Linked DNA regions of Homo sapiens. Changing the gene in region 1 together with any one later gene gives a genetic interaction. Each region holds a gene or a part of one and is shown in the gene's direction. Other genes may lie near its edges.

Region 1 (3,500 bases):
CCACCTCCCTGTTTCCCTAGACAAGCCTGAGGAGCCGACGGCACATGCCTTTGTGAGCACCCTCACCCGGGGGGACCTGTCCTCCATCCGCTGGGTCTGCTCCTCGCTGCGCCATGCCCAGCCCACCTGCCCTGGCGCCCAGCTCTGCACGGTCTACTACGCCTCCCTCAACTTCCGCGACATCATGCTGGCCACTGGCAAGCTGTCCCCTGATGCCATCCCAGGTATGGGTGGCATGGGGCCGTGGGAGTGGACTGGGCCGGGGAGCAGAGACCCCAGCAGCTAGGACCTGCCTGGGAGCCCCTCGGGAGGGAAGGGCAGGCGGTGAGGGGCTCAGTGCCGTCTCCCCCAGGGAAGTGGACCTCCCAGGACAGCCTGCTAGGTATGGAGTTCTCGGGCCGAGACGCCAGCGGCAAGCGTGTGATGGGACTGGTGCCTGCCAAGGGCCTGGCCACCTCTGTCCTGCTGTCACCGGACTTCCTCTGGGATGTGCCTTCCAACTGGTGAGTGTGTCGAGGGTGTGAGCCTGGGCCCCACGTGGATGGCGGCCAGGCCTGTGCTGACCCACCTGCTGCATCCCCAGGACGCTGGAGGAGGCGGCCTCGGTGCCTGTCGTCTACAGCACGGCCTACTACGCGCTGGTGGTGCGTGGGCGGGTGCGCCCCGGGGAGACGCTGCTCATCCACTCGGGCTCGGGCGGCGTGGGCCAGGCCGCCATCGCCATCGCCCTCAGTCTGGGCTGCCGCGTCTTCACCACCGTGGGTAAGGCCCCGCCCCCGGTGCCTCCCGCTGCCCTCCTGGCCCCGCCGCCCTGGCTCACCAGCCGCGCTTCCTCTCTTCACCAGGGTCGGCTGAGAAGCGGGCGTACCTCCAGGCCAGGTTCCCCCAGCTCGACAGCACCAGCTTCGCCAACTCCCGGGACACATCCTTCGAGCAGCATGTGCTGTGGCACACGGGCGGGAAGGGTGAGTGGCCCCCACAGCCCCCACCTGCCTCCTGCCTAGCCTCCGGCCCAGGGAGAAGCAGGGTCTGGCCCTCTGGACTGTGGTGGCTGGGCTTGCAGTGGGTGTGATTGTCTGGCCCCTCTGGCCCCCTAGGCGTTGACCTGGTCTTGAACTCCTTGGCGGAAGAGAAGCTGCAGGCCAGCGTGAGGTGCTTGGCTACGCACGGTCGCTTCCTGGAAATTGGCAAATTCGACCTTTCTCAGAACCACCCGCTCGGTGAGGCCGGCAGCGCCTGGGCGGGGGTGGGCATGGATGGGTGTGGGTGGACCTGTGGAAGGCCCTGGGTGAGCACGGCCCCTGCCCGCAGGCATGGCTATCTTCCTGAAGAACGTGACATTCCACGGGGTCCTACTGGATGCGTTCTTCAACGAGAGCAGTGCTGACTGGCGGGAGGTGTGGGCGCTTGTGCAGGCCGGCATCCGGGATGGGGTGGTACGGCCCCTCAAGTGCACGGTGTTCCATGGGGCCCAGGTGGAGGACGCCTTCCGCTACATGGCCCAAGGGAAGCACATTGGCAAAGTCGTCGTGCAGGTGAGGGGAGGAGTCCCGGCGCCTCGGGCACCCCAGGCTCTGGTCCCCAGGCAGTGCCTGAGCCGGTGGGTGCTGCTTGGACGCAGGTGCTTGCGGAGGAGCCGGAGGCAGTGCTGAAGGGGGCCAAACCCAAGCTGATGTCGGCCATCTCCAAGACCTTCTGCCCGGCCCACAAGAGCTACATCATCGCTGGTGGTCTGGGTGGCTTCGGCCTGGAGTTGGCGCAGTGGCTGATACAGCGTGGGGTGCAGAAGCTCGTGTTGACTTCTCGCTCCGGGATCCGGACAGGTGAGTCGGCAGGGGTGCTTGTGGACCAGCCTGGGCCAGGCACAGCCCCGGGCCCCTGAGCCCTTCTCTGCAGCCCACCATTGTGGGCTGTCACGGTGCCTGGGGTCTGTCCCCCTCCATCTTGTGGGGGGCTTGCTGGATGGGGCTCTGCGGCTGCTCCCCACTTCCCCAGCCCGGCGTGTAGGGAAGAGACCGTACCCTGGCCCAGTCCAGCCCACAGTCCTGTGTCCCGCAGGCTACCAGGCCAAGCAGGTCCGCCGGTGGAGGCGCCAGGGCGTACAGGTGCAGGTGTCCACCAGCAACATCAGCTCACTGGAGGGGGCCCGGGGCCTCATTGCCGAGGCGGCGCAGCTTGGGCCCGTGGGCGGCGTCTTCAACCTGGCCGTGGTGAGGGAAGGCCCCAAATGGGGCCCTCAAAAGCCCCAAGACCAAGGGGGGGACCCTGGGTGGACGGGTGAGGCCCTGGAGCTGCAGGGAGTGCTGAGGATGCCTCCCCCAGGTCTTGAGAGATGGCTTGCTGGAGAACCAGACCCCAGAGTTCTTCCAGGACGTCTGCAAGCCCAAGTACAGCGGCACCCTGAACCTGGACAGGTGGGTACCGCACAGCCCTGCTCCCGCCTCTGCCGGGCTCTGGGCTCAGGGCCGTGGGAGCCAAGGTGGTTTGTTGACAGCCCTCTCTGGCGTTTCCTGGGGATGGGACGTTGGGGGCTCCTGGGGATGCTGGCCAATGGGGAGTGACACGCGTGCCCACAGGGTGACCCGAGAGGCGTGCCCTGAGCTGGACTACTTTGTGGTCTTCTCCTCTGTGAGCTGCGGGCGTGGCAATGCGGGACAGAGCAACTACGGCTTTGCCAATTCCGCCATGGAGCGTATCTGTGAGAAACGCCGGCACGAAGGCCTCCCAGGTGGGCCCCACCCTCTCCCCTCGACCCTGCCCACCCTGCCCTCTCCCAGTGGCCACTCCCCACCCCCACCTTCTCCCCGCAGCCCTGCCCACCCCACCCTCTCCCAGTGGCCACTCCCCACCCCGACCTCCCCGCAGCTCTGCCCACCTGCCCCCTCCCCCACAGGCCTGGCCGTGCAGTGGGGCGCCATCGGCGACGTGGGCATTTTGGTGGAGACGATGAGCACCAACGACACGATCGTCAGTGGCACGCTGCCCCAGCGCATGGCGTCCTGCCTGGAGGTGCTGGACCTCTTCCTGAACCAGCCCCACATGGTCCTGAGCAGCTTTGTGCTGGCTGAGAAGGCTGCGGCCTATAGGGACAGGGACAGCCAGCGGGACCTGGTGGAGGCCGTGGCACACATCCTGGGTGAGCACTCCCAGTAGGAGCCGCGCCAGGTGTTTCCCCTGCTGGCATCAGGGTCTTGGGACATAGCAGTCGTGCCCCTGTGCGCCTCAGTTTCCCCATCTGCAGAGCCAGGGTGCGGGCGCAGGTGTCACTGTGGTGGTGGTGCTTTGGGAGATGCACAGCCCACGCACCCCTGGGTGTCAGCCCTGCCGCATACAGGCCGTCCCCATGCCCCCTCTGGAGTTGCCGACCCGGCGCATCCCTTCCAGGCATCCGCGACTTGGCTGCTGTCAACCTGGACAGCTCACTGGCGGACCTGGGCCTGGACTCGCTCATGAGCGTGGAGGTGCGCCAGACGCTGGAGCGTGAGCTCAACCTGGTGCTG
Region 2 (3,500 bases), on another chromosome or scaffold:
ATCTGAAGGCTCGACTGAGGGTGGCCTCCATGCCAGGTTGACTCCTGTGGTTTGTTGGCCTACCTCCTTCCCTGGCCACAGGGGCCTCAGGGGTCAACTTTATACTTATAAACTATATGTGGACAAATGCATGAGACTTTCCAATATGTAAATTTGACTTATGTATATTTTTAGAGACTTTCCATAATTCTTCCAATTCATCACCCATCCAGCATCCCCAAAGTGTTTTTACCAAGTATTTAATAGTTGAGATCCCAGTGTCTTAGACGTTTTTTATAGTAAGTTCGCTAAATACATGAAACATCAGTAATACATAAGTTTTAAGTTGTTGTGATTCATCAGTGTTAGTATATTTCACTCGTGAAGACTACATAGGTTTATCTCTAAAGCTAATATCTGTATACTTAATTCTCTGTCCTCTTGGTGTCCTCCAGCATTGTTGCAAAACATAAGGAGTTGGAGGGGACCAGCCAGGCTTCAGCTGAATACCAAGTTTTGCAGATTGTGTCGGCAATGGAAAACTATGGCATAGAATGGCATTCTGTGCGGGATAGCGAAGGGCAGAAACTGCTCATTGGGGTTGGACCTGAAGGAATCTCAATTTGTAAAGATGACTTTAGCCCAATTAATAGGTAAGCCAAGACTTAACTTTTTTTGACCTAAGCATGTGTATACATCTGTAGCTGTCAATGTAATAGAAAATAGGAAGGGATTTACTCGACAGTCAGCTCTTAGGAATGAAAGATTTCATTTTGGTATGTACATTAATTTTATTCAGGCCTAAATAACCATTTTAAATGTTATTCAAGGTATACAATGTGGCAGAGTTAACGTTTTCCAAATAACCCATTCACTGCCATAAAAAACTTGTTTTCAGCTCTAGACATGCATGTGCGCACACCCAGCACTTGCTCCCATACTTCCCTCCACATATGCCCAACTGCTTTTCACTGTATCTTTACAATAAGGCAGCATTATGGTGATGTGATAACCCCAGAGGAAGCGTCTGATTTTTCTGCTAGGTCATGAGCAAATGGGGATCCCACAAAGGCACACACATGGTGAAGAATCACTCCTTCTAGATCTGCTTTCTTTTCTCTTCCTGTCTCTTAGGATAGCTTATCCTGTGGTGCAGATGGCCACCCAGTCAGGAAAGAATGTATATTTGACGGTCACCAAGGAATCTGGGAACAGCATCGTGCTCTTGTTTAAAATGATCAGCACCAGGGCGGCCAGCGGGCTCTACCGAGCGATAACAGAGACGCACGCATTCTACAGGCACGTATCTCGTGTGCTTGGTCACCTCAGCACCACAGCTCTCAGGTTTTTAGGTGACAACCAGGTTTCTACGGTTCCTTGGATTGTTGTGTCAATGAGTCTAGTACAGAATTTAAGAAATTCTGAACATTTTGTTTCCGTAGTAGCAGTGGAGTCCTTATTAATGTAGTCTTGTTTTACCCACAGAAGGTGCATGTGTGTGAGCTGCACAAACACATTCTCTGCTTACCTCCTACCGTATTCTCTTATGCCATTAATCTAGACACAAAGTGTGTTAGGAGATTTCTATGCCTATTTAATCAATACAACAACCCTAAGGGGTTATTATTACCCTAATGTTAAAGATGAGGGAACTGGGAGGATAATTATTTACTTAGTCTAGGACTCAGCTTCAAAGCCAAGTTTGATTACCCTAAAGGTAACCCTGAGGGACTGGGCCTGCTCCACTGCTCAGGAGAAGGATAGCACAGATCATCTTTTCTTTCTGGCAGAGCTGCTATCCTGAGTCGTCACTGTGTATGGAAGGATTTTTTAATAGCAATATTGATTCCCTCATTTCAGAGGGTACTTTAAAGCCAAGTTGTGATTGGACTCACGTATTTGGACAATTAAAGCTAAGAAATTTAAGTCGTAGACAACTTTAAACTTTTTTATTTTAAAATAGATACACAAATTGTGAAACAGGATGGGAAATTTTTAGACATTTCTAACCTAAAAGCCAAGACTTCAGGCAGATGCCCTTTTTCTTCCATAAGCAACTTCACTCAGTAGCGTCTGTCCTGGGGAGGAGGTACGTGCTCACTGCCCTCTGTATTTACTGCTTTACGGAAGCCATAATGTCAGGAGATGTTAGAGAAACAGAGGTGTAATCACTGAGAATATTTACCAGACGTAAAACTGGAAGGACTTACTTTCATACATGCAGACGAGACTATGAAACATCTGCTGACATTTCTGTTCTTATTGACAACAGCGAATAAGGGTGCTGCCAGGCTCTTTGGTGTTAAAGTAGATGTTCAATCTTGCCTTGCAGGTGTGACACAGTGACCAGCGCCGTGATGATGCAGTATAGCCGTGACTTGAAGGGCCACTTGGCATCTCTGTTTCTGAATGAAAACATTAACCTTGGCAAGAAATATGTCTTTGATATTAAAAGAACATCAAAGGAGGTGTATGACCATGCCAGGAGGGCTCTGTACAATGCTGGCGTTGTGGACCTCGTTTCAAGAAACAACCAGAGCCCTTCACACTCGCCTCTGAAGTCCTCAGAAAGCAGCATGAACTGCAGCAGCTGCGAGGGCCTCAGCTGCCAGCAGACCCGGGTGCTGCAGGAGAAGCTACGCAAGCTGAAGGAAGCCATGCTGTGCATGGTGTGCTGCGAGGAGGAGATCAACTCCACCTTCTGTCCCTGTGGCCACACTGTGTGCTGTGAGAGCTGCGCCGCCCAGCTACAGGTAGGGGAGTCAGCTGCCCACTTTTGCCTGCAGCCTCACCTATCCCTCCTCTTAACGGGGAGTAGGAGCCAGGTACTGGCTCGCTAATGCACAGACGGGGAATGCCCATCTTCACCCGGAAAGGGTCTTTGTATTTGGTGACCTAAAAGGCATTGCCCTTTAGAAACATTTTAGATTAGCATACTATTTTCAACAACATAATTACTCCAAATTATGCAGTGTTTTCAAGTTCTGAAAATGAGGCTGAGATTCCTGGGTAACATATCTAGTTAGCGGCTTACCTGAGGACAAGAATCCAGGCCTCCTGAGGCCTGGCCCAGGGCTGCTTCCTCTATTTCAAGTTGCCTCCCTTTTTCTGACACTTAGGAGGATGGTCTTTATTACTTAAGATATTTGGGAAAGAATACTTCTCAATTATCCATGGATGGGTTGTTGACTCTGTGATATTGGTGATTAATTTCCTTTTATGATTGCAAATGCCTCAAGGGCATATGGGTTGGCTGTTATTTATTAGCAAGTCAAACTAATTTTAATATTAACACGAAAAAGAGAACTCACATATAGTTTTCTTCCTTTCTTGCATGAAGAAGAATTTTAAATTTCCTCTTACAAGTTTTTTCAATTTGTTTTTATTTCTCAGATGTGTTTGCCAAATGTCACTGTGGTTTTATGTAAAACTGGTTCTAGATAATACTTAGTCCTTCAGAAGCTGCTAATTTCAGAGCTAATAAGACCAAATGACCCCTGTGTCCTTTCCCCAGAAGCAGT
Region 3 (3,500 bases), on another chromosome or scaffold:
GGGGGGATGAAGTCCTGGTTGGAGGGAGGCCGGTGGGGTGGGGTGGGGACCATGGGTGCTGGAGAGGCGTGCATTGCTCAGTGGTTAAGCGCACCCTCTGGAGACGGAAAACCTGGGTTCGCGTCTCATTTCTGCACTGTAGTAGCTGAGCCGCCTGGGGTAAGTGCCTTTCCTTTCGGAGGCGGGTCGGTACCTTGAGGGAGGTGGTGGCGGCTGTCCTGCCAGTGTCTGGCGGGGTTGGTGACGCCCTGCCCTGCTGTATTCTCAGGCTGACCCGGGAGCCTGTGGCTGAGAGCCCTAAGAAGAAGCGGTGGGAGGCCGCTAGCAGCCTTCACCCTCCTAGAGGGGCAGGCTCGGCGACAAGGGGCGGGGGTGCCCCGTCCCAGCGAGGGACGCCCGGGGCTGGGGGTGCCGGTCGAGCCCGGGGCAACAGCTTCACCAAGTTTGGCAACCGCAACGTCTTCATGAAGGACAACAGCTCTTCTTCCAGCACAGACTCCCGCTCCCGCTCCTCCTCCAGGTCCCCGACGCGCCACTTCCGCAGAAGGTACTGAGGCTCCCGGCTGGGGCTGTGTGTGAGGGAGGGGGAGGCGTTTCAGGCCTGACCCTCCTGCTTCTTCCTGCAGTGACTCCCACTCAGACTCCGACAGCTCCTACTCAGGGAATGAGTGTCACCCTGTGGGCCGCAGGAACCCGCCCCCTAAGGGCCGGGGCGGTCGAGGGGCCCATATGGATCGGGGCCGAGGCAGGGCGCAGCGTGGGAAGAGGTGAGACTGTGTGAGGGCTCGACACACGGGCCAGGGTGGAGGAGGGTACTGGGGACCCATGGGAGAAGGAGGAGGAGGGCCGGACAGGTGGACAGCCAGCTGCCAAAGGGGCGAGGCTGAAGGGGGGCTGGAGACGCCTGTCGCGCTCACTGCCCCTCATCCCTTCCTAGGCACGATCTGGCGCCCACCAAGCGCAGTCGAAAGAAGATGGCGGCGCTGGAGTGTGAGGACCCGGAGCGAGAGCTGAAGAAGCAGAAGCGGGCAGCCCGCTTCCAGCACGGACACTCCCGCCGCCTGCGCCTCGAGCCCCTGGTGCTGCAGATGAGCAGCCTGGAGAGCAGTGGGGCTGACCCTGACTGGCAGGAGCTGCAGATCGTGGGCACCTGCCCTGACATCACCAAGCACTACCTGCGCCTCACCTGTGCCCCCGACCCGTCCACCGTGCGCCCTGTGGCAGTAAGTGCCCAGCAGGGCAGTTCTGCTCTGTGAGGCCGTGCTGGCTCAGGACTTGGGGAGCCAACCCAGGGAGGGTGGCAGAGGCCACACGGGGGCTCTGGTATGGCAGGGGAAGCTCGGCCAGAGACGCCTCGGCTGGTCGGCATTCTGAGAGGAGCGCAAAGGCGCTCTGCTGCCCTGGAGCCCCGCGTGGCGGGTGTGCAGCTTGGCCGGCGAATCGCTTGACCTCTGGGCCGTGGTTCCTGGCTTAGGTGACACGGAGCATAAAGCCTTCTCCCAGGCCCGTGGGCTGTGGGGCGTGGGGGGCTGTGTTTCCAGTGTTTGGCGTAGTCACTGTTCTGCTGCAGAACCTGTGAACAGCCATGTGCTTATAGGGAAATGGGTGTGGAGGTGGCCACTCTTAACCCATGTCTTGTGGGTTTGTTTTCTCTTTTTTTGGGAGAGAGTCTGGCTCTGTCGCCCAAGCTGGAGTGCAATGGCGTGATCTTGGCTCACCGCAGCCTCCGCTCCCCGGCTTCAAGCGATTCTCCTGCCTCAGCCTCCCTAGTGGCTGGGATTACAGGCGTCTGCCACTACGCCTGGCTGATTTTTGTATTTTTAGTAGAGACGGGGTTTCACCATGTTGGCCAGGTTGGTCTCAAACTCCTGACCTCAGATGATCCACACACCTCGGCCTCCCAAAGTGCTGGGATTACAGGCGTGAGCCACTGCGCCTGGCCTTTTTTTTCTTTTTTTAATGTTGCAACTCTCCCACCAAATAAGTGGAAGCCGTTGGCCACGCTACCTGAGTTGTACTCCGAGTGTGAATTCAGTTCCCTTTTTCAGGTTTTGAAAAAGTCGCTGTGCATGGTCAAGTGCCACTGGAAAGAGAAGCAGGACTACGCGTTTGCCTGCGAGCAGATGAAGTCGATCCGGCAGGATCTGACGGTGAGACTCGCGCTGGGAGGGGCCTGGCCTCAGCCAGTCCTGCCTCCCGCTCCTTGTGACTCTTGTTCTCGCCCCGCTGCCCCAGGTGCAGGGCATCCGCACCGAGTTCACGGTGGAGGTGTACGAGACCCATGCCCGGATCGCCTTGGAGAAGGTGAGCTGGCCTCTGCGGGCCTCCCCAGCCCCTTTCCTGCTGCCGTTCTGCCCTCAGCACCCTCACTCTGCTCTCCTCCCTCGGTGCCTCTGCCTTCCAGGGTGACCATGAAGAGTTTAACCAGTGCCAGACGCAGCTCAAGTCGCTGTACGCCGAGAACTTGCCTGGCAATGTGGGCGAGTTTACTGCCTACCGAATCCTCTACTACATCTTCACCAAGAACTCGGGAGGTGAGGCCCAGTCCCCAGGACAGAGGCCATGGTACCCAGGGTTGAGCCCTGCTGACTTCACCCTCTTTGTCTTGGTGCTAGACATCACCACGGAGCTGGCATACCTCACACGAGAACTGAAGGCAGATCCTTGCGTGGCCCACGCCTTGGCATTAAGGACAGCCTGGGCCCTGGGCAACTACCACCGCTTTTTCCGGCTCTACTGCCATGCACCCTGCATGTCTGGCTACCTCGTGGACAAGTTTGCAGATCGGGAGCGCAAGGTCGCCCTCAAGGCCATGATCAAAACGTATGTGGTGCCAAGCTCCCTTCTGCCTTTGCTCTTCCCATCCTTCCGCCTCGCACCGCCCCTCAGACCAGCTCCTGGCCGCAGGCCTCCCCCAGCCCCCAACCCTTGTCCTGGTCCTTGCTTCCCCATCATCTTTCTCCATTCAGCCCTCCCCTCTCCAGTTCCTCTTGCTCTCCTTGTTGGTCACCTCTGTGTTCCGGGTCACTCCTCTCCCTCTCCCCACTGTTCCCAGCTCACTGCCTCTGGGGCCTCTTCTCCACCCCATCTGTGTGTCTCTTCCTCCTGTTCTCTCCTGCCTGGACCCCCTAGTTCACTCCTTGCCCTGGGCTTCCTCAGAACCCTGAGGTCTCTGCTTTCTCAGCTTGTCGCTGTGCTCCCACCATAGAGACCATCTAGACAGCCTCTGGTCTACCAGGACAAGGCCCAGTCCCACTCAGCTCCTTTGAGAGCACCAGAAACGCTTAGGGAGACACCTGTGTTGAGGCCACACTGGGCGCGGTGCCAGAGGCCCCTGGTCAGGCCATGCCCCTGCAGTGTCCTTCGTTCACTAGACATTGCGCCTGGCTTGCTGTGGGTGGGGATGAGTTGCTTGACTCATGTTTAGACGCATGGTTCTGTCTGGTGATTGAGGTGCCCAGGCGACGCTGGGCAATGTCAAGAGAGGTTTTCGCTTGTCA
Region 4 (3,500 bases), on another chromosome or scaffold:
ATATAAACATTAGCTGGATGTAGTGGTGCACACCTGTAATCCCAGCTACTCAGGAGGCTGAGGCAGGAGAATCGCTAGAACTCGGGAGGAGGGGGTTGCAGTGAGCCGAGATTGCACTACTGCACTCTAGCCTGGGTGACAGAGCGAGACTGTCTCAAAAAACAAAACAAAACAAAAAAACACACATTGCAACAAAACAATTTCTCTCTAAACCTGTAAGTGATTTTGTCCTCCCTTACAGAGAAGGTGATAATCTTTGCTGTAAGCACTGTCCTCGTATCGTACCCCTTGTGCCCCTGAATGAATTTAGAAAATGTAAAGTACAGGAGATCAGTATATGATGACTTACTGATTCATAGTAGTGTTTTAATAGGATGTTCCTTATGTGAATAAGATATAATTTATTTGCAAAGATTTGGTCTACATGTAAACTTCCAAGGATATAACTGAAAGTTTTGGAGGACATGGTATTCTCAGTAGGCATTATTGCTTTTATTAGTGAGATGGACTCCAGCTTGATATTTTCTGCCTTTTTGTGTTTGGCTGGTTGTGCGCAGCACGAGGGCCGGGAGGAGGATCAGCGGTTGATCAACTTGGTAGGGGAGAGCCTGCGACTGCTGGGCAACACCTTTGTTGCACTGTCTGACCTGCGCTGCAATCTGGCCTGCACGCCCCCACGACACCTGCATGTGGTCCGGCCTATGTCTCACTACACCACCCCCATGGTGCTCCAGCAGGCAGCCATTCCCATACAGGTGGGTTAGGGGGAGTCTGGCCTGAGGGAGAGTGAGGGGTGTTGATAGAGTGACCCAGGGTAGCTACTGGGCCTGAAGGAGGTTAGGAAAGGAGGAGACTGGAAACATGGTGATGAAGGCTGGAGATACTTTAGAGGTTTATCATGAGGTTTTCTTGGTTAGGCTCTTGTATTTTTCTCACATCTGCCTGTCCATCTGTCTTTTTCAGATCAATGTGGGAACCACTGTGACCATGACAGGAAATGGGACTCGGCCCCCCCCAACTCCCAATGCAGAGGCACCTCCCCCTGGTCCTGGGCAGGCCTCATCCGTGGCTCCGTCTTCTACCAATGTCGAGTCCTCAGCTGAGGGGGCTCCCCCGCCAGGTCCAGCTCCCCCGCCAGCCACCAGCCACCCGAGGGTCATCCGGATTTCCCACCAGAGTGTGGAACCCGTGGTCATGATGCACATGAACATTCAAGGTGAGAATAGTTGCTGGCGAGAAGAGCAGGATCAGCATGATGAGGGAGGTTCATGCTGAGGTGTGAGGGAACAGGGTGGGGAAGGGAGAGGCACATGCTGGTGGTGGTAGCCTGGGGACCAGAGCAGAAGCTTAAGTAGACAGATGTGGGGGGTGTGGGGGTTGGTTTGTCTTTGGAGGTGTGTTTGTGTGGTGAAGGGAGTACCTCTCCCTGTTTAGATGGAGGGAAAGGCAGGCTTTCTGATTGGGGGATTATGGGCCTGAAGTATGCCTGATCTCAGAAGGATATAGTTAGGCCTTGGCCCTACCTACCTCAGGGCCACTGTCTCTGTCTCCCTGCCCAGATTCTGGCACACAGCCTGGTGGTGTTCCGAGTGCTCCCACTGGCCCCCTGGGACCCCCTGGTCATGGCCAAACCCTGGGTAAGAGTGAGGGCATCAGGGCAGGCTGAGCTCTGGGTAGAGAAAGGGAAGGGCTGAGTGGGTGGGTTGAAGGGGTCCAGGTTCAAGGTTACATCAGACCCGCCCCCCAGGCTCCACCCTCATCCAGCTGCCCTCCCTGCCCCCTGAGTTCATGCACGCCGTCGCCCACCAGATCACTCATCAGGCCATGGTGGCAGCTGTTGCCTCCGCGGCCGCAGGTAATGACCTGGAAGGGGAGGCTTGGGAGGTAGGGCACAGTCCATGGTGGCAGCTGGCTGGCAAGGGCCTGGCCCTCAGCCCTCTTCGGTCTGTCTCTTCTGCCACCCACAGGACAGCAGGTGCCAGGCTTCCCAACAGCTCCAACCCGGGTGGTGATTGCCCGGCCCACTCCTCCACAGGCTCGGCCTTCCCATCCTGGAGGGCCCCCAGTCTCTGGGACACTGGTGAGCAAGGGTCGGGGAGTTCTAGTGCGTAACAGTCTAGGGAGAGACTCCTGTGGTGGTGCATGGAAGGGCAGGTCTGAAATTCTCCCTTGCTCTCTATCCAGCAGGGCGCCGGTCTGGGTACCAATGCCTCGTTGGCCCAGATGGTGAGCGGCCTTGTGGGGCAGCTTCTTATGCAGCCAGTCCTTGTGGGTGAGTTTTCATTCTTCCCCACTCAGAGTTTAAACTCCTTTCCTAGTCTGCTCACTGGCACTTTCCAGTTCTTTCCATATTTTCTTGGTTCCTGCTTTCCTGGAATGGGGCTGCTGTAGTGTCTTGTGTCTTCAGGTTTCAGCTTTTTTTTTTTTTTTTTTTTTTTTTGAGATGGAGTCTCACTCTGTTGCTAGGCTGGAGTGCAGTGTACAATCTTGGCTCACTGCAACCTCTGCCTCCCGGGTTCAAGTGATTCTCCTGCCTCAGCCTCCTGAGTAGCTGGGACTACAGGTGCACGCCACCACGCCCAGCTAATTTTTTATGTTTTTAGTAGAGAAGGGGGTTTCACCATGTTGGCCAGGATGGTCTCGAACTCTTGACCTTGTGATCCACCCACCTTGGCCTCCCAAAGTGCTGGGATTACAGGCTTGAGCCATCGTGCCCGGCCAGCTTTTTTCTTTTTTTTTTAAGTTACAGAGTCTTGCTCTGTCACCCAGACTGGAGTGCAATGGTGCAATCCAGTGAGTTAAAGCTCACTGTAACCTTGAACTCCTGGGCTCAAACAGTTCTCCCACCTCAGCCTCCTGAGTAGCTAGCAGTACTAGCTCCTGGCTAGTAATTGTCTTTTTTTTTTTCTGGTAGAGATGGGGTCTTGCTATGTGGCCTAGACTCCTGGGCTCAAGCAGTTCTCATGCCTTGGCCTCCCAAAGTTGCTAGGATTACAGCCAAGAGCCACCATGCTCAGCCCAGCTTTCTTTTTTTGGTTTCTTACAGCTCAGGGGACCCCAGGTATGGCTCCACCGCCAGCCCCTGCCACTGCTTCTGCCAGTGCTGGCACCACCAACACAGCTACCACAGCTGGCCCCGCTCCTGGGGGGCCTGCCCAGCCTCCACCCACCCCTCAACCCTCCATGGCTGATCTTCAGTTCTCTCAGCTTCTGGGGAACCTGCTAGGGCCTGCAGGGCCAGGGGCTGGAGGGTCTGGTGTGGCTTCTCCCACCATCACTGTGGCGATGCCTGGTGTCCCTGCCTTTCTCCAAGGCATGACTGACTTCTTGCAGGTGAGTGGCTGGCTTGCCATTCACCTCATCTTCCTGTCCCCCGGCCCAGCCAGGCAGTGGTACCTTCTTGCCATTATATAACCACTGGGTAAGAGCCCCTAGTGACATGTTAGGGGAAGGGGCCCTGGGAATTCATTGACTCTGAACCTTTCATTTTAAAGATGAAG

What was found. A genetic interaction does not mean that the proteins touch.
Region 2: changes in FASN (region 1) and MYLIP together harm fitness less than expected from each alone (positive genetic interaction), as found in Homo sapiens cells (one large-scale study listed by BioGRID).
Region 3: changes in FASN (region 1) and LENG8 together harm fitness more than expected from each alone (negative genetic interaction), as found in Homo sapiens cells (one large-scale study listed by BioGRID).
Region 4: changes in FASN (region 1) and BAG6 together harm fitness more than expected from each alone (negative genetic interaction), as found in Homo sapiens cells (one large-scale study listed by BioGRID).

What each region holds. Positions count from the first base shown.
Region 1 is NC_000017.11:82,081,237-82,084,736, reverse strand, and holds part of FASN (fatty acid synthase), read left to right. Parts: intron 1-20; coding exon 21-224; intron 225-352; coding exon 353-503; intron 504-583; coding exon 584-762; intron 763-845; coding exon 846-965; intron 966-1,097; coding exon 1,098-1,220; intron 1,221-1,311; coding exon 1,312-1,535; intron 1,536-1,621; coding exon 1,622-1,823; intron 1,824-2,058; coding exon 2,059-2,210; intron 2,211-2,322; coding exon 2,323-2,414; intron 2,415-2,576; coding exon 2,577-2,728; intron 2,729-2,893; coding exon 2,894-3,136; intron 3,137-3,384; coding exon 3,385-3,500. UniProt on the Homo sapiens protein: Fatty acid synthetase is a multifunctional enzyme that catalyzes the de novo biosynthesis of long-chain saturated fatty acids starting from acetyl-CoA and malonyl-CoA in the presence of NADPH.
Region 2 is NC_000006.12:16,142,586-16,146,085, forward strand, and holds part of MYLIP (E3 ubiquitin-protein ligase MYLIP), read left to right. Parts: intron 1-434; coding exon 435-632; intron 633-1,113; coding exon 1,114-1,278; intron 1,279-2,311; coding exon 2,312-2,732; intron 2,733-3,500. UniProt on the Homo sapiens protein: E3 ubiquitin-protein ligase that mediates ubiquitination and subsequent proteasomal degradation of myosin regulatory light chain (MRLC), LDLR, VLDLR and LRP8. Activity depends on E2 enzymes of the UBE2D family.
Region 3 is NC_000019.10:54,455,699-54,459,198, forward strand, and holds part of LENG8 (leukocyte receptor cluster member 8), read left to right. Parts: intron 1-268; coding exon 269-547; intron 548-626; coding exon 627-767; intron 768-937; coding exon 938-1,223; intron 1,224-2,048; coding exon 2,049-2,150; intron 2,151-2,235; coding exon 2,236-2,304; intron 2,305-2,404; coding exon 2,405-2,534; intron 2,535-2,615; coding exon 2,616-2,823; coding exon of another isoform or gene 2,824-3,208; exon of another isoform or gene 3,209-3,500.
Region 4 is NC_000006.12:31,642,662-31,646,161, reverse strand, and holds part of BAG6 (large proline-rich protein BAG6), read left to right. Parts: intron 1-557; coding exon 558-755; intron 756-963; coding exon 964-1,216; intron 1,217-1,532; coding exon of another isoform or gene 1,533-1,559; coding exon 1,560-1,637; intron 1,638-1,747; coding exon 1,748-1,855; intron 1,856-1,967; coding exon 1,968-2,080; intron 2,081-2,184; coding exon 2,185-2,272; intron 2,273-3,046; coding exon 3,047-3,333; intron 3,334-3,500. UniProt on the Homo sapiens protein: ATP-independent molecular chaperone preventing the aggregation of misfolded and hydrophobic patches-containing proteins.